Linked DNA regions of Homo sapiens. The protein of the gene in region 1 purifies or fractionates together with the protein of each later gene. This does not show direct contact. Each region holds a gene or a part of one and is shown in the gene's direction. Other genes may lie near its edges.

Evidence for each region.
Region 2: the proteins of TBR1 (region 1) and AKAP8 purify together in Homo sapiens (affinity purification with mass spectrometry, with the first as the bait; one large-scale study listed by BioGRID). This does not show direct contact.
Region 3: the proteins of TBR1 (region 1) and NFIA purify together in Homo sapiens (co-immunoprecipitation; one large-scale study listed by IntAct). This does not show direct contact.
Region 4: the proteins of TBR1 (region 1) and DNAJC16 purify together in Homo sapiens (affinity purification with mass spectrometry, with the first as the bait; one large-scale study listed by BioGRID). This does not show direct contact.
Region 5: the proteins of TBR1 (region 1) and RNGTT purify together in Homo sapiens (affinity purification with mass spectrometry, with the first as the bait; one large-scale study listed by BioGRID). This does not show direct contact.
Region 6: the proteins of TBR1 (region 1) and FAM91A1 purify together in Homo sapiens (affinity purification with mass spectrometry, with the first as the bait; one large-scale study listed by BioGRID). This does not show direct contact.
Region 7: the proteins of TBR1 (region 1) and PDCD11 purify together in Homo sapiens (affinity purification with mass spectrometry, with the first as the bait; one large-scale study listed by BioGRID). This does not show direct contact.

The regions. Positions count from the first base shown.
Region 1 is NC_000002.12:161,415,026-161,419,096, forward strand, and holds the start of TBR1 (T-box brain protein 1), read left to right. Parts: upstream 1-1,271; 5' UTR 1,272-1,385; coding exon 1,386-2,077; intron 2,078-2,650; coding exon 2,651-2,805; intron 2,806-3,175; coding exon 3,176-3,297; intron 3,298-3,866; coding exon 3,867-4,025; intron 4,026-4,071. UniProt on the Homo sapiens protein: Transcriptional repressor involved in multiple aspects of cortical development, including neuronal migration, laminar and areal identity, and axonal projection.
Region 2 is NC_000019.10:15,366,288-15,369,787, reverse strand, and holds part of AKAP8 (A-kinase anchor protein 8), read left to right. Parts: intron 1-1,465; coding exon 1,466-1,553; intron 1,554-3,500. UniProt on the Homo sapiens protein: Anchoring protein that mediates the subcellular compartmentation of cAMP-dependent protein kinase (PKA type II).
Region 3 is NC_000001.11:61,379,561-61,383,060, forward strand, and holds part of NFIA (nuclear factor 1 A-type), read left to right. Parts: intron 1-3,500.
Region 4 is NC_000001.11:15,533,348-15,536,847, forward strand, and holds part of DNAJC16 (dnaJ homolog subfamily C member 16 isoform 1 precursor), read left to right. Parts: intron 1-889; coding exon 890-956; intron 957-3,127; coding exon 3,128-3,467; intron 3,468-3,500. UniProt on the Homo sapiens protein: Plays an important role in regulating the size of autophagosomes during the formation process.
Region 5 is NC_000006.12:88,614,119-88,617,618, reverse strand, and holds part of RNGTT (mRNA-capping enzyme), read left to right. Parts: intron 1-3,223; coding exon 3,224-3,347; intron 3,348-3,500.
Region 6 is NC_000008.11:123,788,939-123,792,438, forward strand, and holds part of FAM91A1 (protein FAM91A1), read left to right. Parts: intron 1-674; coding exon 675-807; intron 808-3,500. UniProt on the Homo sapiens protein: As component of the WDR11 complex acts together with TBC1D23 to facilitate the golgin-mediated capture of vesicles generated using AP-1.
Region 7 is NC_000010.11:103,399,626-103,403,125, forward strand, and holds part of PDCD11 (protein RRP5 homolog), read left to right. Parts: intron 1-162; exon of another isoform or gene 163-205; intron 206-771; coding exon 772-903; intron 904-3,492; coding exon 3,493-3,500. UniProt on the Homo sapiens protein: Essential for the generation of mature 18S rRNA, specifically necessary for cleavages at sites A0, 1 and 2 of the 47S precursor. Directly interacts with U3 snoRNA. Involved in the biogenesis of rRNA.

The DNA.
Region 1 (4,071 bases):
GGGCCTCGTGCTATTTATTTGTGCCAACATCTTTTTAAATTGGTTTTTTTCTATTCCTCTTTAGATTCTTTTTCCTTTTAAAAATTATTGGCATGGATGCTTTTTCTCCCCTCCAGATTATATAAACATTAAACACACACACGTACACACACACACACGTTTTCAGTAGCGATTACTGTGTTGACACCACTTCCACTCTGTCTCCCCAGATCAGCGCTTCTGACGAGCCCATTTGCACGGGGACTCGGCCCTCTCTTTTCCTGGCGAGGCTTTTGAACCTGTCGCCAAGCCAGTACCTCAGAGAGAAGGAAATGCAGAGGGACGAGAAGGATGCATGGCGCCTGCCCCCAGTTAGATGTTCTTCAGATAATCTGCAACCAAGTGCGCTGATAAAATATTTAATAAAGAGCCGGTAAACATCACTGCAAATACATTAAGGCATTTCAGCCCGACAGCTTATGATTATTTCAAAACTTAAAAAGGAGATCATAGATTGTCACTGTTTCTGTACTCAACCAAGAAACCGAACCTTCCTGAGGTGGGTGGATTGGTGGGTGAGTTGCTGCTTTTCGCCCCCTCTCCTCCCCCCTTCTGCTTGTCGCTGTGGCTCTCAGCAGCAGGGATTTATTTATTTATGTTTGCAGTTTAAAAGGTGGGGGTGGGGGCGCCGAGGACATGTAGGATCTGCTCACAAAGCACCAGCTCAGGTGTTGTGTGCTTTTGTATTAGCTGGAAAAGACAGACTCTGGAACTTTTACAGGGCGAGAAGAGGCCACCGGCTCGCGCTTTGTATACTTTGCACTTGAAATCGTTACATTCAACTGAATATTTGGCTCATTCAGATCCGAAAAGTCTCCTAGCATCGTCGAATTCCCTCCTCCGCCCCTCCGCTCTAAAGGGGGGAAGGGGGGGAAGGTAGGAAATGTTTAGTAAATTCCACATCTTTGAATCTTCCTAAAGCAGTGGTCACAGAGCTTAAAGGTGACACAACAGTGCTCACGTAAACCAACACACATTCCCCACCCCCCAAGCCAACAATAAAATCATCCCCTTCAATTTGCCATGATCGTCGCTACCAGGAGCCAGGTGATTATCCTAATTAATGTCTATCTAATTAAATTACTGTCAGCAGCTAACCAATGGCAGGAGCCGTTTCATCGGCTGCACAAGCAGCAAGATCAAAAGTGAGCCTTTTCTGATTGCTGCATAGTGTCAATTGGCCAATCTCTTCTCCCAGGGAAAAAAAAAAGTAAATCAAACCTTTGAGAAGCATTTGCTGGTTGAAGTGCTTTCTGTCTAGTGAGGGGGTCTGTGGATTTCTAGTTTATGATAAATAGGACTTTAAAAACCAGGGACGGGAGGGCGAGTGTTCAGGTTCTAGAGCTATGCAGCTGGAGCACTGCCTTTCTCCTTCTATCATGCTCTCCAAGAAATTTCTCAATGTGAGCAGCAGCTACCCACATTCAGGCGGATCCGAGCTTGTCTTGCACGATCATCCCATTATCTCGACCACTGACAACCTGGAGAGAAGTTCACCTTTGAAAAAAATTACCAGGGGGATGACGAATCAGTCAGATACAGACAATTTTCCTGACTCCAAGGACTCACCAGGGGACGTCCAGAGAAGTAAACTCTCTCCTGTCTTGGACGGGGTCTCTGAGCTTCGTCACAGTTTCGATGGCTCTGCTGCAGATCGCTACCTCCTCTCTCAGTCCAGCCAGCCACAGTCTGCGGCCACTGCTCCCAGTGCCATGTTCCCGTACCCCGGCCAGCACGGACCGGCGCACCCCGCCTTCTCCATCGGCAGCCCTAGCCGCTACATGGCCCACCACCCGGTCATCACCAACGGAGCCTACAACAGCCTCCTGTCCAACTCCTCGCCGCAGGGATACCCCACGGCCGGCTACCCCTACCCACAGCAGTACGGCCACTCCTACCAAGGAGCTCCGTTCTACCAGTTCTCCTCCACCCAGCCGGGGCTGGTGCCCGGCAAAGCACAGGTGTACCTGTGCAACAGGCCCCTTTGGCTGAAATTTCACCGGCACCAAACGGAGATGATCATCACCAAACAGGGAAGGTAATACTACATTTTTGGCTGCCGCTGCTCTAGGCGCAGCCGGGGACAAGTGCACCTAGGCTGTGACTGCCGCGGCAGCGACGATTTGGGGTCGGGAGCGGAGTGGAAGGCGCCCTAGAGTTGGCTAGTTTTGGAAAGGGGGAAAGTGGAAGGGATAACCGCCAGGGTGATGTTGGTGGGGGGGACCCCGTTCTAGGAACATAGTGGGAGAGCCAGTCAGTGGCCAGAGGAAGGCAAGAAAAAGGAAGAGCCCTGGCCAGCGGCTGGGCGATGGGAGGGACGCATCAACACTGGCATGCACGGACAGGTGGAGACGCAGGTCGCCAACCTCGCTCTCCACCTGGGCAGTGATAACTGCCACCTTCCCACTCCAGCTCACCCGCCGCTCTCCCTGATTTGGGTTGCACTTCTTTTCTTCTCCCACCACCCTTTTTCTAATCCAGCAAATATTCGCCTATTTGCTGCAAGTACAAGTTTTGCTTTGCTAACTGGCGCCCCGCTTCTTGCATTTAATCTTTAACATTTATGTTTCTTTTTTCCTTGTTTTCTCCCCCCACCCCTTAATTTAAATAGGCGCATGTTTCCTTTTTTAAGTTTTAACATTTCTGGTCTCGATCCCACGGCTCATTACAATATTTTTGTGGATGTGATTTTGGCGGATCCCAATCACTGGAGGTTTCAAGGAGGCAAATGGGTTCCTTGCGGCAAAGCGGACACCAATGTGCAAGGCAAGTCCTTCCAATTAACACATTTTCTTGACACTTATTTAGGTGAGAATGATTAATTAAAGCCTTTGTGGACTGGCTCGAGCGACTTTTAAAACGATCGGCCAATGACTTCTAAAAGGAAACGAGGGGGACAGGGGGACAGACTGAGCTGCGAGAAGGGGGAGGATTATGCAAAAGCTATTTTAATCACCCCCAGTTAATAGGAAGAAAGAATGGCCTAAAAAAGCCCCAGTTAATGGGCTTCATGGTGGAGTAAGGTGTGTGTATGTGTGTGTGTGTGTGTGTGTGTGTGTGTGTGTGTCCTACGTGGTGAGGAGCTGGGACTGGGCAGTGCCAGGGGCATATGTAAACAATGTATTTCTTTCTCTAGGAAATCGGGTCTATATGCATCCGGATTCCCCCAACACTGGGGCTCACTGGATGCGCCAAGAAATCTCTTTTGGAAAATTAAAACTTACGAACAACAAAGGAGCTTCAAATAACAATGGGCAGGTCAGTGGCTCAAGCGCTCGTGTTTTCTCTCTCTCTCACCCCTTCCTCCCTGACATCCAGTTCGTCAGTGTAAAGCAGCATATGGAACTGGATACACGTTTCTTTGCTTCATTAAAAAGACTTAAAAATTGTATTTCCACCCTCCAAATTTATATTAAATCTGTAAAGTTGTTCTCATTGGCAACACCTCCGTCGGCCCAATTTTGGAGTGCCCGACCTTCCCAAGTACTAATACTGATTGATTTTGAGAAGAAACCCCACAAGATCTGCAGGTTGTGGAAATCTTTGTTCCTCCTTACAGGAGGACTAGGAGAAGGGCCCTGAGGATCGGGCGGTCGGCTTCCCCCTTTTTTCCGGTGCCCCGGCTTATCTTCGCTCCCAGAGGTGCGAAAGCCGGTCTGCCCCAGCCAGCCAGCCGCCAGCCAGGCGAGTCCCGCGGTCAGTTAGCCTGGAAGGCGGGCTGCAGGCTGCCTCCGCCGGCCCGGGCGCGCAGCCGGGCGCACACAGCCACGCGCACAGCGACCGCGTTAACACGCCACCCGGCGCTCCCCTTTCTTCCCGCCGGACAGATGGTGGTTTTACAGTCCTTGCACAAGTACCAGCCCCGCCTGCATGTGGTGGAAGTGAACGAGGACGGCACGGAGGACACTAGCCAGCCCGGCCGCGTGCAGACGTTCACTTTCCCTGAGACTCAGTTCATCGCCGTCACCGCCTACCAGAACACGGATGTAAGGAGACCTAGGGGCTGGGGGCGAGGCGGGCGGCACAGACATC
Region 2 (3,500 bases), on another chromosome or scaffold:
AGTGTTTTCTCTGGGGCTTCCTTTTGTCCAGTTCCTTCAGTCGCCTGCCCTGGGCTGTGCTGTGGGCCTCTGTGGTGGGGATACTGGCAGCTGCACTGCACATTGCTTCGTGCCTGCGAGTGTGTGACAGCAGACACCTGCGGGGTCGGGAGCACCCAGGCCCACTGGGTCTTTGAGAGGCGGGCGCCCTTCAGCAGGTCTCTTCATGTCCAATGCAGGAGACCAGAGGGTCTGCAGCAACAGCAGAGCAGGCTTAAATCCCTCATGGCAGAGCGGCCTGAGGTGCCGCGGCCTGGAGCTCACCCTGAAGCCACTCGTTTCTTTACCTGTCCTGTGGGTCTTTCCGTAGCTGGTTACCCCAAGGATCATAGGCTGGCTCCTCAGTGGCCCTGCTCCCATCCATTCTGAAGGCCCTTGGCTTAGATGTTCCTCCTGTTCAGGCTTTGCCAGCCCTCTGCGGTCCTCCCCCCCGCGACCCGCAGCAGTCCTGTCCATAGCACGGGGCGCCCCGAGCGCTTAGCGGCACAATGCTAAAGCAAAGGTGACATGTCTGTTGCGCGCAGGTCCTGCTACCTACCCGGGATGACTTTGCTATTAAACAGCAGTCATAGTTTCAGGCAGTGACCTCTTGCCAAAAATCCCACACGCCCTTTTGAGAGGCTTCTGAGCAGCGCACGCCGGTCGCCATCTTCGTGGGACAGTCTCGGGACTGGCATCAGGGGTAGGGGTTACAGTTCAGATGCTTCTCCAACCTTTTTTCAGCGTCCGTCCCTGGCCTCATGCTGGGATGATGGCCGCGTGGCTCTCCGAGGAGCTCCTCTGCTGGCCCCGGGGGACGGACGGGAGGACCAATTGGTCTCTTCCCAAATTTTTTTCTAGGATTGCTTCCCACGCAGCCCTGGGAAAGCCCTAGATTGACGGTTTTTGTGAGTGGAAGATAGAGGTCGGGCCAGCAAGGACTGTCAGACCTGCTGAGGCCCTAGTTCAGACGGGGCCGCCAGGACGCTCGTCACAGTCCACCTAGAGGTGGGATAGAGGGCGGCGGAGCAGCTGCTTCACTTCCTGAGGCCTTCAGCTGCCGCCTCTTCATCCGGGGAGAATTGGCTTCTCCTGTGATATTGGGAGAAGACCCCATCGCAGGGCATGAGATTGGACAAGCAGAATGGGGAGGACAGAGGGAGCAGGGGGCTGTGGTGCACATGGGGTGGGCAGGCTGTGTCCCTAGCCCATCCTGGCCGCCTCAGGCCATGTGGGGAGTTTGGTGACTACTCCGGGCTCTCACTCCAGGCCCGTGTCCACCAGGAGTCTCTGACAGTGCCTTGGGGCATCCTGGACCCTGCCGCGTGGTGCAGGCAGTGGCAGGGCACAGGGTGCGGTGGCCAAGCTGCAGCCCCCCGACCAGGCCCTGGAGCTCAGCTCCTTTGCAGGCCACTCAGAGCGTCTCGAAGGGACTTGTCTGTTACAGGAGAGAAGGAGGACGAGGACGAGGATGTGAAGAAGAGAAGGGAAAAGCAAAGGAGAAGAGACAGGACGCGGGACCGTGCAGCCGACAGGTGAGGCGCGGGCACACGACCCCACAGGAGGAGGTGGACTCGTGCGGTGGAGGCGCTGCCGAGCTCACCTGTCCTCGCTCCACAATGCTGGGGGCCTGGTGGCCTGACTCCTCTGGCCAAACCAGTGGGAGGCAAAACAGTAAACAATTGGGAGTGCAGAAAAGACCATCACTCGTGCTCCCAGCACACGAGCTACCTGTCTTCTAGGATGGCTGGGACGTTGCTTTGGTGGTTAGGTTTCTGTTCTTGCTTTAGAGGATTGGTGTTTGACTCCTGTGTCTCTATTCCTCTGGAATCCCAGCCTTGCTGGTGGGTCTGTGTGGTCCATAACTGCTCAGCAGCGGGCTCTGTTACTCTCCTGCAGGCCTGAGGGGCATCCCTGCCCCCTAGCCTGGTGTCTGGCATCTCAGACACTGTCCTGTGTTCACCTTATCCAAATCCAGACCACCCCTGGAGTTTGACACAGCTAGGAGACAGGTAGAGAGATGATCCTACCATCAAGATTTTGTCCCACAATAGAAAAGGATTGCAAAAATGTTGAGCCCAAAGGATGTCATTGTGAGCACACCATGTGCCTGCCTCTCCCTGCCAGGAGTTAAGTGGCTTCTGACTAGAAACTGAAATCACCAGTGATCATGTGATGCTGGGGAATCCTTGACCTTAAGGTTCACATGGGACAGTGATTTTCTTTTTGTTTGTTTGTTTCTGAGATGGAGTCTTGCTCTGTCGCCCAGGCTGGAGTGCAATAGCATAATCTCGGCTCACTATAACCTCTGCCTCCTAGGTTCAAGCGGTTCTCCTGCCTCAGCCTCCCGAGTAGCTGGGATTACAGGCGCCTGACACCACGCCTGGCTAATTTTTGTATTTTTAGTAGAGGTCGGGATTCACCGTGTTGGCAAGGCTGGTCTTAAACTCCTGATCTTGTGATCTGCCCGCCTTGGCCTCCCAAAGTGCTGGTATTACAAGCGTGAGCCACTGCGCCCAGTCTGGGCAGTGATTGTCGTGTTCAAAGAAATGCTTAGTAAAAGGGGCCAGATGCCGTGGCTCACACATGTAATTCCAGCACTTTGGAAGGCTGAGCTGGCGGATCGCTTGAGGCCGGGAGTTCAAGACCAGCCTGGTCAATATGGTGAAACCCATCTCTACTAAAATTACAAAAATTAGCCAGGCATGGTGGCAGGTGCCTGTAATCTCAGCTACTCGGGAGGCTGAGGCAGGAGAATCACTTAAACTGGGGAGGTGGACTTTGTAGTGAGCCAAGGTTGCACCACTGCACTCCAGCCTGGGCGACAGAGCAAGACTCTGTCTCAAAAAGAAAAAGAAACGGGCTGGGGGCAGTGGCTCACGCCTGTAATCCCACCACTTTGGGAGGCCAAGGCAGGCGGATCACCTGAGGTTGGGAGTTCGAGACCAGCCTGACCAACATGGAGAAACCCAGTCTCTACTAAAAATACAAAATTCGTCCGGCATGGTGGCGCATGCCTGTATTCCCCGCTGCTCGGGAGGCTGAGGCAGGAGAATTGCTTGAACCCAGGAGGTGGAGGTTGCAGTGAGCCAAGATCACACCACTGCATTCCAGCCTGGGCAACAAGAGCGAAACTCTATCTCAAATAAAAACTCCATCTCAGTGAGCCGAGATTGTGCTACTGCACTCCAGCGTGGGCGACGGAGCAAGACTCCATCTCAGGAACAAAAAAAAAAAAAGAAAATCACTGTTCCATGTGAACCTTAAATCAAGGATTCAAAAAAAAAAGAGAGAAATGCTTAGCAAAACGAAGCCAGGAACCAAACGCAGAACTGTTTCTTCTTAAGTGGTACAGGAACATTGAAACCCTTGTTATTTTAAACAGATAAATGGATAGAGTAGATGACTTTTCATGTCACATGGAAACTGAGATGACATTTTCTTTTTAATTATTTTTAAACTTAAATAATCTAATAAAGAGA
Region 3 (3,500 bases), on another chromosome or scaffold:
CCATGCCCAGCTAAGTTTTGTATTTTTAGTAGAGATGCGGTTTCACCATGTTGGCCAGGATGGTCTCGATCTCTTGACCTTGTGATCTGCCCACCTCAGCCTCCCAAAGTGCTGGGATTACAGGCATGAGCCACCGTGCCTGGCCTCAGCTAACTTTTAAAAATTAATTTTTTGTAGAGATAAGGTCTCACTATATTGTCCAGGCTGCTCTCGAACTCCTGGCCTGAAGCAATCCTCCTGTCTCAGCCTCCCACAGTGCTGAGATTATAGACATGAGCCACCAGCCCAGCCTGACTACCACAAATACCAATGATGAATTTGAAGGAATCTTTGTGAATAGTGCATTTGACCTGTATTTTCAAGGTTTTCTTGTTGAACTTTGCACTTATAAGTGCCTCCAGAGATGAAAGCCACTACATGACTAGAATCCCATATATGTTTGCCCTTGTCTACTGAACACAATTTGGAATGACTCATATAGCTTAGAAAAAAATGGCAGACTAGAGGGAAATTGAAAATTCAAAAATTCTGGATGTTTAGAAAACCAGTGACAAGCCACAGGCCTTCTTGACATGTTTCTCCAATTCTATTTACTCTCATTGGGTTTTTTTATACCAATCAAAAGGATGAAATGCCCCATTGAAACAAAACATTATGCTAGATTTCTGCTTCTCATTCTACAAAAGTCTTTATTTTTCTGCATTGAACTTTGAAGTAACATTTCATTTCCTCCAGAAAAAGAGTAGGATTACTTCATCCGTAGTCTTTTTTTAAAAATCTGGTACTTCTAGAAAATACATTGAAATTAAAGTTTTAATGCATTGAAAGAAAGCCAATCAGTCATTAATCCATACAGTAATTTTGTAACAGTTGTGCATAAATAATTGGCAAAAGAGATTTTAAAAAGGAGTTTATTTTTAAAGTAATGTACAGAACCAAATTTGATTTCAAAAATAAAAGCCAACATTAATGTTTTCTAGCTTTTAACAGAAAGCAGTTTACTAGCATTTTGGAATTTCATCTGGTCAATTAAATATACAAAACAAATTAACCAAAACATACATTATGTATGTAGAGAAAATATTAAAGTATATAATAAGGAAATGTGCTCAATACGAACTCTTTAAAAATTGAAAACACAAAGTAATTTTGAGATTCATGACAGCCTTAGGGTTCATATTACTTGACTGTGATAAATTTAGAAGATTATACATAGTTTGGCTGGTTGTTCCTGCATGCTGACGGTATTTCTTCCGTCTTTAACCCTTGCAAAGAAGATTTAAATTTTGCTATTTTTGAACTTGTTTACCAACTTGGTCATTCTTGATACTTGTTATTGCCCAAATTTTACTTGTAATTCCTTTTAGAAGCATAAATAGTGGATTTCAATCATGTCAATATTTCTGCAGTATTTAGAATGGCATGAATTAGAAAACATGAATTTTTCAAAGAAATCATAACTTTTTCTTGAGTCCAGCCATTTGCTATCATCAATAAGATTAGTTAGGATACTGGATTTCATCAGTGATTCCATTATCTGAAAAAAAAAAAAAAATCTGCCACCTTTAAAGTTTTGATTTTTGTTTTAATTATCTGTTCTGCTTCTGTTTTATGACATGTAGTTCAGGCATTGGACTAAATTTAAATCAGTGGAATGGTTGGCAGCCTATAAATTGGTCTACACAAAAAGGTTTAAATGAGTTGGGAGATTTGTTTACATTTTGCTAGCTTTTTATTTCTTTCATTTTTTTTATTTGAAATCTCCTCCTTAGTGGAATTACATGATGATAACCTTAGGTTAGGTTATCTTACAGTGAATGTTCACCCAAAATCTCAGTGCATCCTACATTAGAACTTTGGTATGGTGTGACTGGTTACTGATTCAGCAAGCAACAAATATAACTAAAGTCACTTAATTACTTCATTTTTAATTCAAATCACATGGATGTTGATCTAGAAAGGATCTGATTCAAATTGTCAAATTAGTATGAAATCACATACCACTCTATGTTGTACTTATATCTGACTATGCAAATGTGTTTACCAATTTTCAATTTTTCTTTCTTGGGGTGAAAATTCTAAGCTTTGCTATGTTTAAGCATCTATTCATGAAGCTACAGATAAAGCTGAGACCTGCACAAGTAGTTTAAATATCTTTTCAGACCATTTGGGTGTTTCAGACCCTTGGAGGTCTTGGACATAGAGGGGAACAAAGCAGACAAGGACTCTGTCCTTATACAGTCTGAGTCACACTCAAAGGTCATGTTGTAGAATTGCATTAAGGAAATCTGTGATCAGAAATAACAGGGACATATTTAGATACACGCAAAACTAGCTAAATTTCTGGAAAGATCTATACCTATAAAGTGCTTGGCACAGTACATGGTACTCCATAACAGTTACATGTTAATATCATTATGATTTTTATTACTTTTCCAGTTCATCCAAATAATTCTCTGGTCATGGGCAGAACACAGCACATGTAAACATGTATAAGTAAAATGGAATTTGGTTCTTTTAACATCAGTGCAGACCAGTTTTGTGCTACAACCTTAAGAGAGCCCAAATTTGTCCCCTGATGCGGAGACTAGGAGTCATTTCTTTTATTTTTATATCCAAATTTTCATTGTTTTAATTGGCACCCTATCAAACTGATAGATGCCTCCAGTTGGGTATGTCAGCGTGGTTGCCGAGAACATTACAAATCCAGTAATTACAAGGAACTGTTTCTCCATTATTTTCTTCCCAAAGCATTTTCTATGCTGGAAATGCTGTGAAAACTTTAGACACAATAATAAAAGTACTATTTTTAAAAACAAGCTTTTATTGTATTAACATGAAAGCAATATATGTTCATCATAGAAAAGACAGGTAAGCAAAACAAAGGCAATGAAAATCACCCAAATTCAATACAGAGAGAGAACTACCATTATAGTTTATGCATATTGCCTTCCAGTTCTTTCTCTGTGCATAGAAATAGCCTTTTCAATGGTGTCATAGTATAACATCCTATTTTGTAATTGCCTTTTTCAATTAACATTATATTATAAATGTTTTGCCACATCATTACTCTTTTACAGTATTGCTTACATTGGTTATACCATACTTATTTAACCAGTCCCCAATTGTAGGGCATTTAAGATTTTTTTACTTTTCTTTTTTCTTTTTTTCTATTCTAAAGAATTCATTGAATGAACAACTAAGTTGCCATTGTTGAGGGTATTCTTATGTTAAAACAGCCAAATTATTTAAAATATGGAGAAAGTGATTTGGTGTCAAAGCAAGGTAACCAACAAGATGAAACGATTGCATGTGAAGTCTTCATAAGCATACATGGTTTCCTTTTTGGGAGTCACAGAGGTCACAGACACAAGCAGCAACTTTTAGGAAACACTGGAAAAGTTGAACCCTGTATTATTATTGAAGACCAATAACCCAAAAATGGACTGTGATTAATTAGAATAAATTGAAATCAAATACAGACCGACTTATCAGGGGAC
Region 4 (3,500 bases), on another chromosome or scaffold:
CGGGCGTGGTGGCTCACGCCTGTATTCCCAACACTTTTGGAGGCCGAGACAGGTGGATCATTTGAGGTCAGGAGTTTGAGACCAGCCCAGCCAACATGGTGAAACCCCATCTCTACTAAAAATACAAAAATTAGCCGGGTGATAGTGGCGCAGGCCTGTAATCCCAGCTACTCGGGAGGCTGAGGCAAGAGAATCGCTTGAGCCTGGGAGGCAGAGGTTGCAGTGCGCCAAGATTGTACCACTGCATTCCAGTCTGGGCAACAGAGTGAGACCCTGTCTCAAAAAAAACAAAAAAACAAAAAAAACAGTGGCCTTGAAATCTTTATCCAGGTAAAAAGCAATCGTAATAATAACGAAAAATGTTCTAATTTGAAAGTCAGGCACAAGTGCAGTTTGAAACCTGATTGTTACTAAATGAATTTAGTCTATCCTAAAAGCTATTTCTCATGTCTACCTGTGTTATCAGAAGAAACAACAGCATTCTAGCATCCTGATATCATTCTAGCATTGGGATGAAACGTTGCCATCCTAGGAGAAGACATGGGTTCTTATGGATAAACGACTTAGCCTTCAGCCAGCTTTAGCAGTGTTTGGGAGCAGTGTACAGACATGCACCATTTCCCACCTTCCTCTGTGAAATGCTGCAGTATTATATGGTGCTTTGAAAACATGCCCTGCTGGAGTGCTTTGGGAAAAAATAGCCTGTTTCAAAGTTTCATTTATTATAGTCATGTAAAACAACTGATTGCCTCTATCATTTATTTTAAGAAACTTTCCTAACAAAATAGCCCTCCGTCTGCCTCTGTAGTGAACTCTGTGGACAAGGACATTAAATGACTGTGCATTAAAAGTTACATCCTTTCTCACCGCCTGCCTGTTTGTGTTTCAGGCATCCTGACAAAAACAAAGATCCTGGAGCAGAAGACAAGTTCATTCAAATCAGTAAGGCTTACGAGGTATCGTGTCCAGCTTTGTGATGCATCCATTAGCTCTTACAAAATATGCCTTAGGAGGTGATGAGTTTTGTAAAGTTGTCAGAAAGGTCATGTTCCCCATGCCCTTGATGCAGTTTCTAGATTATAATAGAGAGAACAGGCTGGATGCGGTGGCTCATGCCTGTAATCCCAGCACTTTGGGAGGCCGAGGTGGGTGGATCACGAGGTCAGGAGTTCGAGACCAGCCTGACCAACATGCTGAAACCCTGTCTTTACTAAAAATACAAAAAAAATTCGCCGGGCGTGGTGGCACGTGCCTGTAATCCCAGCTACTCAGGAGGCTTAGGCAGGAGAATTGCTTGAACCCGGGAGTGGGAGGTTGCAGTGAGCAGAGATCGAGGCCTGGGTAACAGAGGGAGACCGTCTCAAAAAATAAAATAAAATAAAAAATAATAGAACATATTTGGCCACATCCAGTATATTGGAACAAGTGCCTGAACACTTCAGCTCTTGGAAAAACTGGCCTATTTTAAAGGCTTTAACTAGAATTGTAGAATTACCCTGAGTATGTCTGTATGTGTCACTATTGCCTTCTTAGAAATATGCATTAAAGAATCACATACCAAATCGCCTATATTTATTAAAGTGGCACGAGGTAACAAATACATTTAAACACAAGATTTTCAGTAATTTTCCAGTATGTCAGCTCAAGTAGATTGGTCTGGAATATGCATCAAAGAGAATTCAGTGGCTTTCTGATTTGTATAGGGAATGCCCTTCAGCAGACAGTGCTTAGCTCATAGAATAACACGTCATCATTCTAAAACAGATTCCTGAATTTTAGACTTCAAAGTTATTTTGTAAAACAAAGTAAATTAACAGACAAGGCACTAGACTATAGCTATTTGGTGTTCATAGCTTTTCTTATCTTGGTTTGAATTGGTCCAACTCACCAGGTATGACCAGGTCAATTTTCTTGTCATTGAGCCCTGGTGATCAACATTATGTTATTTTATTTGTTTTGCTGAAGTGTTTAATGTTGTGGTAGTTTGAAATCTTTAATGCCAAGATGAGCATGAGTACCTAAACTGAAATATTTTAGTCTTGAATGTTCTTTAATGTTTCTCTAGTGAAAGAAGAGTTTCTCATTCTTTTGAATGACTGCATTTAGAATATCTAATCGGCTGGACCCAGTGGCTGCTCACGCCCTGTAATCCCAGCACTTGGGGAGGCTGAGGCATGCAGATCGCTTAAGCTGAGGAATTCAGGACCAGCCTAGACAACATGGTGAAAAATACAAAAATTAGCCAGGCATGGTGGCATGTGCTGATGGTCCTAGCTACTCAGGAGGCTGAGATGGAAGGTTGACCCTGAGAGATGGAGGCTGCAGTGAGCTGTGATCACGCCACTTCACTCCAGCCTGGGTGACAGAGTGAGACTCTATCTCGAAAAGAAAAAGAATATCTAATTATGTCATAATCTTTTTTCTTTTTTCTTAAGAGACAGTCTGTCTCTGTCACCCAGGCTGGAGTACAGTGATGCGATCACAGCTCACTGCAGCCTTCAACTACTGGGCTCAAGCAATCTCCCACTCACCTCACCCTCCCAAGTAGCTAGGACTATAGGCACGCACCACCATGCCTGGCCGATTTTTTTTTTTCTTTTTGTAGCAAAGTCATGCTATGTGGTCCAGGCTGGTCTTGAACTCCTGGCTTCAAGGGATCCTCCAAACCTTGGCCTCACATAATCGTGTCATAATTTTTACATTTCTTTTCTTTTCTTTTCTTTTCTTTTTTTTTTTTTTTTTTGAGACGGAGTTTCGCTCTTGTTGCCTAGGCTGGAGTGCAGTGGCACCATCTCGGCTCACCTCAACCTCCGCCTCCTGGGTTCAAGCAATTCTCCTACCTCAGCCTCCCGAGTAGCTGGGATTACAGGCATGCGCCACCACTCCCGGCTGATTTGATTTTTTGTATTTTTAGTAGAGACGGGGTTTCTCCATGTTGGTCAGGCTGATCTCAAACTCCCGACCTCAAGTGATCCACCCGCCTCAGCCTCCCAAAGTGCTGGGATTACAGGTGTGAGCCACCACGACTGGCTGCATTTATTTTCTTCCTATGTCTTTCAAGCTGCTTACAAAAAAGTCTTTTGGATGAACCTTTTGTTGTTGTTTAGATTTTTTTCTTCCTTTATAGATTCTTTCAAATGAAGAAAAGAGATCAAATTATGATCAATATGGAGACGCTGGAGAGAACCAGGGCTACCAGAAGCAGCAACAGCAGCGAGAGTATCGCTTCCGCCATTTCCATGAAAATTTTTATTTTGATGAATCCTTTTTTCACTTCCCTTTTAATTCTGAACGGCGGGACTCAATTGACGAAAAGTATTTATTGCACTTTTCACATTATGTGAATGAAGTGGTTCCAGATAGCTTCAAGAAACCCTACCTCATCAAGATCACCTCCGATTGGTGCTTTAGCTGCATTCATATCGAGCCTGTGTGGAAAGAAGTCATTCAAGAACTGGAAGAATTGGGTAAGATAATTTTATTCACTGAAAGATATTTAT
Region 5 (3,500 bases), on another chromosome or scaffold:
ACTTCCTGATTTCAAAACATACTTCAAAGCATCTAATTTAGATGGCATACTTAATTACTGGCATAAAGATAGAGATACAAATCAATGGAGCAGAATAGAGAGCCCAGAAATAAATCATTGCATATATGGCCAAATGATTTGCCACAAGGGCGCCAATACTACACAATGGGAAGGGACAATCAATATCTTCAACTAACAGTGTTGGGAAAGCAATATCCACATGCAAAAGAATGAAGTTGAACCCCTACCTTACACCATATACAAAAATTAACACAAAAATAAAGACCAAAACATAAGACCTTAAACTATTAAACTTGTAAAAGATAACATAGGAGAAATCTTTTTTTTGGAGATGGAGTCTCCCTCTCTTGCCCAGGCTGGAGTGCAGTGGCACGATCTCAGCTCACTGCAAGCTCCGCCTCCCAGGTTCATGCCATTATCCTGCCTCAGCCTCCCGAGTAGCTGGGACTGCAGGCACCTGCCACCACGCCCGGCTAATCTTTTTGTATTTTTAGTAGAGACAGGGTTTCACTGTGTTAGCCAGGATGGTCTCGATCTGACCTCATGATCTGCCCACCTCGGCCTCCCAAAGTGCTGGGATTACAGGCGTGAGCCACTGTGCCCGGCCAGGACAAATCTTTAGGACATTGGATTAGGCAATGATTTCTTGTGTGCAACACCAAAATCATAGGCAACAAAATAAAAAATAGACAAAGAGGACTACATCAAAGTTAAAAACTTATGTACATCAAAGGAATCAATCAGCAGTGTGAAAAGGCAGCCTACAGAATGGGAGAAAATAATTGCAAATTGTACATCTGATAAGAAGTTAATGTCCAGAATATATAAGGAACTCCTACATCTCAACAACAATAAACAACCCAATTAAAAAAATTGACAAAGTTTCTTGTATACTGAAGAAAGTATACTGAAGAAAGTATACAGCCAATAAGCACATGGAAAGATTCTCAGTCATTAGTGAAATGCAAATCAAGACCACAATGAGATAGCACCTGACACCATCAGGATGGCCACTATGAAAGAACAAAAAGTTTAAATTAGAGCACAGTAAACAATGGGCGTCAATTTTTTTTAAAAAAAAAAGGAACAAAAACTAACAGGTGTTAAGGATGTGACATTGGAACCCTTGCATACTGTTAGTGAGAATGTAAATTGATGCAGCCATTATGGAAAACAAAGGGGTCCTCAAAAGATTAAAAATAAAATTATGATCCAGTGATACTGCCTCTGGGTGTATAGCCAAAATAATTTAAAACCGGATCTCAAAGAGATATTTTCACACCCACGTTCTTTGCAACATTATCCAAAATAGCCAAGAGGTAGAAGCAGCCCACGTGTCCATTGACAGATGAATGGCTAAAGAAAATGTGGTGTATACATACAGTGGAATATTATTCTACCTTTAAAAAGAAAGAATTTCTGTCACATGCTACAACATGAATAAACCTCAAGGACATTATGCTAAGTGAAACAAGCCAATCACAAAAGGACAAATAGTGTGTGATTCTGTTAATACTCGTATGAAGTATCTAAAGTAGTCAAAATCATAGAAACAGAAAGTAGAAAGGCAGTTATCAAGGTCTGGGTAGAGGGGAAGGGGGGCAATTAGTGTTTAGGGAGTATAGCATTTCAGTGTTGCAAGATGGAAAAGTTCTAGACATACACTTAGCATTGCTGAACTGTACACTTAAAAATGGTTAAGATGGAAAATTCAATGTTTTTTTACCACAGATTTTAAAAAGCAATGTTTCATTGCCTAATTTTATATTTGGTTAACAATTTTACTGATTGTTCTATGTCCCAGGCACTTTCAATTATTATTCTTTCAGTGACCCAGTAAATTAGGAACTTGTTCCCCATTTTAGAAATTAGGAAATAGACACTGAAAGGTTTAGAAACTTATTTCTGTTAGACCTTACATGTGGTATAGCAAAACTGTGTTTACCTAACTGAATGAGTTGTCCAATACTTGCATATACACAGTGTTTCCAAAATAAAAGAATGGGTCCCTAGAAAGCAAGGCAAGAGAATTGAGACTAAAATAATGAATATTTGAGGATAAATTTGGCAAGTTTGCTACTTGGAATATCACTTTTTTGGGCATGTCTAGTTCCAAAACCACTGAGTGTATTGCACCTGTTGGATTTGTTGAAAATGCAGATGGTACAATCAAATGTAAAGGGAAAGGAATATAGTTTGAAAGTTTTTATGAAGACATGTGCTGCCTAATCTGCGAATTGAAAGCATCTTTTAAAAACTTACTTCTCGTCATATTCCTAGGTGGTAGTGAATATGTGGGTAGAAAAATGAGAATGTTTCAGATAATGCTAATGAAGTTAAATGATTGCAGTCTACCATATTGTGAGGAAAAGTTGTTAGCCATGAAAGATGAGGACAGAATTAAAATATTACCATGACTGGCATTTGATTTGAAAACTACAAAGATAAGCTTAGGTTCCTATTTATGAAAACCATTCTCACAGCCCAGTGAAATATCTTTTAAAAGGTTCGTAGTTACCATGGATACTTGTTAGCTTTGATAGAGTATCCATATTCAGTCATCTGAGGTGAAGAAGCCAAAAAACCCATCAACTAATGTCACAAATAGCTTCATCTGTAAATTTGTACTAGTTTGGGGATGGAAAGGCTAAGTTTCCTGAAGATTAGATTGTTGGTTAATTGTCACTGCTTGGAAAGCAAAATATTTAGGATGTACATTGCCTGAATTTGATCCTAGTATTCACTATTGATATGTAACTTTTTCATTTAACTAGTACACGGCATTTCTTAGATTTTAACATAGGAATTTAGATGGTTAGACCTTTCTGAAAGTTGATGAAACCTAGGCAGTATACTCAATTTCTGAAAGCCGTAGAGACACAGACAATATTGAAGGTATTGGTCCCCATGGTAACATATTTGCATTTGGCCCAGCATGGCTGGTTTCTGCCTAGCTTCTTTTAATTGCTATATATTGACAGCCATTTTCACAATTATTTATAAAATGTCGGATAAGTGAGCATGTGTACAAGGGAGTGCACACCATACCTTAAGCTTGATTAGATACTTCAGATGACAAAGAGCTCTCTGCATGAAGAGTTACTGAGGTATTTTTATCATTTCCTAATGTGCCTGTCACATAGTAGAAGCAAAAAGCCTTTCAAGTTATTTAAATATTTTCCTCAATTCTCTTTCAAAACAGGTGACAAAAGAGCTGAAACAGTATGACAACAAAATTATAGAATGCAAATTTGAGAACAACAGCTGGGTCTTCATGAGACAGAGAACAGACAAAAGTTTTCCTAATGCCTACAACACTGCCATGGGTGAGTATGACAACTTACCAGTGCTTATTATATTTAAAACAAAAATTAAGGTGTTAGACCCAAAGTGTGCTGCCTTTGTTGTTTTGCTTAATGGGGCATAGTCATTTGGACTTCATCCTTGTTTGATGGGAAAGATACGTCAAGTCTGTATTC
Region 6 (3,500 bases), on another chromosome or scaffold:
TTATTTTCCCGTTGGTAGACCTATCATTCCATTTTCTGTGTTGTTTCTGGGATATATGTCTCTACTTATTAAAAGGTGACTTATTCAGACTTATTCAGAAGAGCATACATTAAACTATAAGGCCAGTGAAGGCAGGGGTTTTGTCCATTACTCTATCCTTATCTCCTAGGGAGGTCATAGTCCATAGGAGGCACTAAGTAAATCTTTGTTGAGTGAATTTAAGCTGTGTGTTCAGCAATGGTGAACAGCTATGTTGAATCACAGACTCCAGTGTCTCTTGTAACTGGTAATACAGAATTGTGAACAAAGTTATGAGAATTATAGGTAAAACTGGTGACCTTGGAGTACTTTCCTAGATGGAGCAGAATACGGGTTTTAGAGTTGTTTAAGCACTCTATTTGAATCATTTGGAACATGTAACATATAATGCTATAACTTAGCATTATTCAATTGCTAAAATTGTTAGTCTTAGTTGAAGTAATTTCTATCTCCATAGATGTAGTAAAATTGGGAACTCAACCAAGACTGAGGTTAATAACTTGTTTCGGTATTGCCTGGGCAAATTTTTGATTTACTACTTTTGAATAATGTCTTATATCTCTATTATATGATTATTAGAGTGAATGGCATAAAAGTGGTATTTTTGTTGCAAAATCTATTTTCTCTTGGTTTAGGTTCAGAGCACTGGTGAAGGAGAAGCACAGAGATATTTTGATCATGCACTTACTCTGAGAAACACAATACTGTTTCTGCGTCATAACAAAGATCTAGTTGCGCAAACTGCACAGCCAGACCAACCCAATTATGGTATGATAAATATATTTAATTTTGAAGACATGATCATATGAAACTTTTTTCTAAGAAATTAAACAGATCATGCTCACTTATATAATCATCACTTACGTATTTTGTGTAGATAGCATATTGAATTTATAACTAGAGGCCTGTTTTGTGAATTTCTTGCTTGTTAACTGTTTCTTAACCTTATTTTACTTTTCTCATGTGCCACTAACATTTGTAGTATTTAAATCTGTTCAATACCTGCAAAAGTGTTGGTGTTAATTTATTTAAGTAGCTGGATGGAATTTAGAACAGGCATCAGCTCTGAGGGGTGAACAAGGGCAAAATTTTAGTTAATGTAGGAAGCATAAAATTTCAAGAATGAAAGATTCCATCATAATGAAAAGAATAAAGAGGAGCCTTCTGTTCAAATGCTACTGCAATACTTACCAAAAGATTTTACTTTTAAAAAGGAAATAGATAATTCTTTTTAAAGAGTAAAAGAAGTAGCAGCAATTTTAAGGTATTGATGAACTTTAATGGAGCTGTTGCCCTACTGGGCACTCTCAGTTTTGTGATAGTTGGGGGTTCCCAAACTTTAGTTGAATTGATGGTGTCAGAATTTCTACCCAGATGGGGATTTGGATTCAGTAGGTTTTGAGGTGTGGCATGGCACTCAGGAATGTGTGTTTTTTAAAAGATGATTCCAGTGCTCAGCTAGGCTTGGGCACCCCTGCATGAGCACTTGGCTCAAGTTCTTAGACATTCACAAGAGTTGTGTCTTGGGGCTTCATGGGTCCTCAATACCACTATAACGTTTAATTTTGATTAGTTTCATTTACCTAAAAACTATTTTTTCTGGCCAAGAACATCAGTTTCTTAATCATCTCCATTTTCATTTATTCTCTCACTAGCATCTGGCTTTCTTTTCAGCTCAATTTTAAAAATTGAGGGAGGATTCAGCTGTTACTTAACAAGCTGTCACATAGGTGAGAACAAACATGCTGGGTAGTTTACTTGAGTGAGGCTAGACTCACTTGGTATCAAGTGATTCACTTCTGCAGCCTTAATATGCCTTATCTGAAGAATTACAGATTGTTACATACTGGGGCTTTTGAGATCATTCATAAATAGTTAAAACTGAGAATATTAAATTGCCAAATGCCGAGAGTCCTAAGCACTTACTGGTAGGCATTTGTTGATGGATAACCATTTTTGGTTAATAAATACTAAATCATGTGATAAAGCAGTGGTGAGTGGCACAGTCTTGAGGATGTCTTTGGATATAAAACTCCTGGAATTTCTGGGACTTTTTAGTGATTTATGGAGATAATGTATTAGATGATTTGAAATACTCTGTTAAAGCTGTCTTGAAATACATTGTCCTTTCCTGCCTATCACAGAATGTGAGAACATTAGAGAGTACTAGTGACCAGTGAAGTGTAACTCCTATTATAGATAAAGAAATTGGAGTTTATATTAGCTAAATCTTCTGCTTGTTTTTTAGTCATCAAAGCCCATATTATTAGTAAATGGAAGAGCCAGGAATGGAAGACTTGAATCTGTGTCTGTTGATTTTTTTTTTTCCATTGCCCTGTCCCTATATTATCTTCTCTTGAACGCTAAGCTTTGTATTCATTTACCCATAAACATTTGTTGCTTAGTAGTCTGGGCTGGGCTAAATTTTTTCCCCATGAATAGTCAGTGTACCATGAAGTAAGTTAAATGGTAAATCTAAACCTATTCTCTATGAAAATAGTCCTGTGCAATCCTAACCTTTAAGGTGGGTTTAATGTTAGACTGTTCCTGACCCTAGTTGGAGATTTAATTGCTTAGAATAATTGCTGGGTCTCCAAAGTTAAATTTGATGAATGCCTCCCCTTAAGACCAAACCTGCAATTACTTATGAAATTTCATTTTTGCTACCAGCATTTCTTAGCTTAGCTCCTCATCTGAATTGCAGAACATGGAAATGATTGGCGTGACTATTTCTCAGTTTTTCTAATGATGGTGCACATTAGTACCGTTCTCAATGCATGAAAAAGGTCATTCGTTCTATGTAGAGGATATCTTAGGGCATTAAGGCTTCATGCTCAGCCTGTTGAGAAATGTTGCTTTCTGCAGTTACTGGGCTTGGTAACTGAACCTTACTCTTTTTTAGAAAAGAAATTCTCTGCCGGGTGTGGTGGCTCATGCCTGTATTCCCAGCACTTTGGGAGCTCGAGGCAGGCGGTTCACTTGAGGTCAGGAGTTCAACACCAGCATGGCCAACATGGTGAAAACTCGTGTTTACTAAAGATATAAAAATTAGCCAAGTGTGGTGGCAGGCACCTGTAATCTTAGCTGCTCGGGAGGCTGAGGCAGGAGAATTGCTTGAACCTGGGAGGCTGAGGTTGCAGTGAGCTGAAATGACACCACTGCACTCCAGCCTGGGTGACAGACTGAGACTCCGTCTCAGAAGAAAAAAAAGAAATCCTCTAGTATTGGTGTTTTAAGCGTCTTGTTTGAGGAAAAAGAATTTTCTTTTTATGTCACTAATAATTTATACTTTGAGTATATCATGTAGTACTTGTTATCTACTATAAAGCAAAAGCATTGTGATATTATACAAGCAAACTCTGTTATACATGGAACTAGTGTCTTAGTCCTAGGAGTCCTTAATCCCTTGGTTTTAAATAGCACGGCGTACTGTTTATAAATAAAAGTCATGCGTGGTCTGT
Region 7 (3,500 bases), on another chromosome or scaffold:
CATTTGAGTGTGTGGCTTTAGGTCTGTATTATGTAATCTTTTCAACTGTACTGTGAAGCACTGATTGCAATTCCATGATGAGGAACAGTGTCTTGCTCTGTCGCCCAGGCTGAAGTGCAGTGTTGTGATCTCAGCTCACTGCAACCTCCACTTCTTGGTTCAAGCAATTCTCCTGTATCAGCCTCCCGAGTACCTGGGACTATAGGTGCGTGCTGCCATGCTCGGCTTAATTTTTTTGTATTTTTAGTGGAAAAAAAAATACAGCCTGTTGGCCAGGCTGGTCTTGAACTCCTAATCTCAAGTGATCTTCCCGCCTTGGCCTCCCAAAGTGTTGGGATTACTGGTGTGAGCCACTGTGCCTGGATTTTATATAATTTAGCTGAAACCACATAGCTTGTTATGGTGGAAAAGATGAGAATTTAACTTGGGTCTGTGTAACTCTGGTGTCCATTTTCATGCACTATTCTACATTGCTTCTCAAACTGGGGAACCCAGTGTTCATCCCAGTCAAGAGAGGGAGAACACAAGAGAGAAGAGACTTTGGGAACATGAAGGAGGCTTCTCAGACCTTGGGCAGAGGGAACATTGGCGGCCCCCCCCCTTTTTTTTTTTTTTTTAAGCAAGAATTAAAGGAACAATTGGGAGTGGGATGGGGTAGGGTGGAGTGAAGGAGTAACAAAGCAAGGTGAGTGATGACCTGAAATAGGAGGGAAAACTCAGATTGCTTCTTATTCTTTTGGGTCTTTGTGGGCTCCCCCTACCCGCTTCTAGATTTCTACTGAAGAGGGATCCACCAAAAGAAAAAAGAGCCAGAAGGGGCCAGCAAAAACAAAAAAGTTGAAAATCGAAAAGAGAGAAAGCAGCAAGTCCGCAAGAGAGAAGTTTGAAATCCTTAGTGTTGAGGTTTGTTAAAGTTGGTTTTCATTTAAACAATCGACCTTGGTTGCTTAAGTTTGTGTATGTTCTTTTTTTCTTCTTTCCTTCTTTTTTCCCTTAATTCCATTTTCCCCTTAATATATTATATTTCATGCGTGTGTGTGTAGAGATGCTTGGAATTTATGCTAAGGAGTAAGCATGATTTCCTTCCATTGCTAACCGATGCCAGGAATCTTTTCTTTTTCTTTGTATTTATTTATTATTTTCCAGAGACAGGCCTGACTCTGTTGCTCAGGCTGGAATGCAGGCATGATCATAGCTCACTTTAGTCTTGAACTCCTGGGCTCAAGCAATCTTCCTGCCTCAGCTTCTCCTGAGAAATTGGGACTACTAAAGGTGTGTGTCACCATGCCCAGCTAATTTTTAAATCTTTTGTAGGGCTTGGATCTTGCTATTTTGCCCAGGTTGGTCTCGAACTCCTGTGCTCAAGCAATCCTCCTGCCTCAACCTCCCGAAGTGTTGGGATTATAGACATGAGCTACCCACCGTGCCTGCCCCCTTTTTTTCCTTTAAAGCTGTCGTGGGCTTGTTTGTGTCCTCACAGGACTTGAGTTCTGATATATTCAGAGGTTAGAATGGACAGTAACTTTAGCAGTCATTCTCATCTTACCCATTCATTTCATAGATGTGAAACCCATTTCCAAGAATTGAAGTGGTCTGTGTTCCTTACATTTTTATTTTTTATTTTTTAATTTTGAAATTATTTTATTTTATTTATTTATTTATTTTGAGACGGAATCTCTCTCTGTTGCGCAGTCTGGAGTGCAGTGATGTGATCTCAGCTCACTGCAACCTCTGCCTCCCGGGTTCAAGCGATTCTCCTGCCTCAGCCTCCTGAGTAGCTGGGATTACAGGTGTCTCACCACGCCTGGCTAATTTTTGTATTTTTAATAGAGACGGGGTTTCACCATGTTGGTCAGGCTGGTCTGGAACTCCTGACCTCGTGATCTGCCTGCCTTGGCCTCCCAAAGTGCTGGAATCACAGGCGTGAGCCACCGCGGCCAGCCTGCCTTACATTTTTAGATGATAACACCAATATGTGTTAGTTATAAAAAAGAAAAGAAGTTAAATAACTTTGAAGAGGAACATTCATATTTGGCTAGATTCAGAGTCAATATTTTGTCCTATATGATACTTTAAAAAAATTGTTAGACTTGGTGCCAACATTAGAAAACTAAAATTTTTTTTTTTTTTGAGACGGAGTCTCGCACAGTCGCCCAGGCTGGAGTGCCGTGGTGCCATCTCTGCTCTGCTCACTGCAAGCTCCGCCTCCCGGGTTCTCGCCATTCTCCTGCCTCAGCCTCCTGAGTAGCTGGGACTACAGGCGCCCGCCACCACGCCCAGCTAAGTTTTTGTATTTTTGGTAGAGACGGGGCTTTACCATGTTAGCCAGGATGGTCTCAATATCCTGACCTTGTAATCTGCCCGCCTCCGCCTCCCAAAGTGCTGGGATTACAGGCGTGAGCCACTGCACCTGGCTGAAAACTAAAAATTTTTTTACATGAAAATATGATTTCTGGCTTCTTGTAAAAATTTGAAAGTACTGATAGCAGAAGGCCCGTATTCCCTCATGTTTGTAATGACAAGGAGCTGAGTAGTGGTTGTGTCCTTTAGACCTGGCATGGTCACTCCAGACTGCCATTGTCTCCACTAGCTGGCTTCCTTCATTGTGTTGTCTGCCAGGCATTTGAGTTTGGGTTGCTCAGAATAATGTAAAAGGCAAAGGTGTCCTCCAGTATCCCAGTGCTGTTAACACTGTTGTATAATCTAGACCTTTTACAGTGCTCGGTCAGATATTTGAGAAGTTCACTGATATGTACACATGTGTATTTCTTTTCATTTATAAAATTCCTGTAGGTTTTTATTTTTTATTTATTTTTATTTTTTTATTTTCGAGACAGAGTTTCACTCTTGTTGCCCAGGCTGGAGTGCAGTGGCATGATCTCAGTTCATTGCAACCTCCACCTCCCAGGTTCAGGTGATTCTCCTGCCTCAGCCTCCTGAGTAGCTGGAATTACAGGCACCTGCCACCATGCCCGGCTAATTTTTGTATTTTTAGTAGAGACGGGGTTTTGCCGTGTTGGCCAGGCTGCTCTCGAACTCCTGACCTCAGGTGATCCACCCGCCTCAGCCTCCCAAAGTGCTGGGACTACAGGCATGAGCCACTGTACCCGGCCTATTTTTTATCTTTATTTTTTGAGATAGGGTGTCACTTTGTTGCCAAGGCTGGAGTGCAGTGGTGTGATCACAGCTCACTGCAGACTCAACCTCCTGGCTCAAGCGATCCACTCACCTCCGAGTACCTGCGACTACAGGCGTGTACCACTATGCCTGGCTAATCTTTTTTTTTGGAGAAACTACGTTGCCCAGGCTGGTCTGAAACTCCTGAGCCCAGGCAGTCCTCCTGCCTTGGCCACCCAAAGTATTGGAATTATAGGGCGTAAGCCACTGTGCTTGGCCTTATAGCTTTTAAATTGACACTAGAAGCCAGACCTTCCAACCTTCCCTATTGTTGTTCCCATCCTTATTGTACACATTTCACTTTTTCTCTTCTAGTCCCTGTG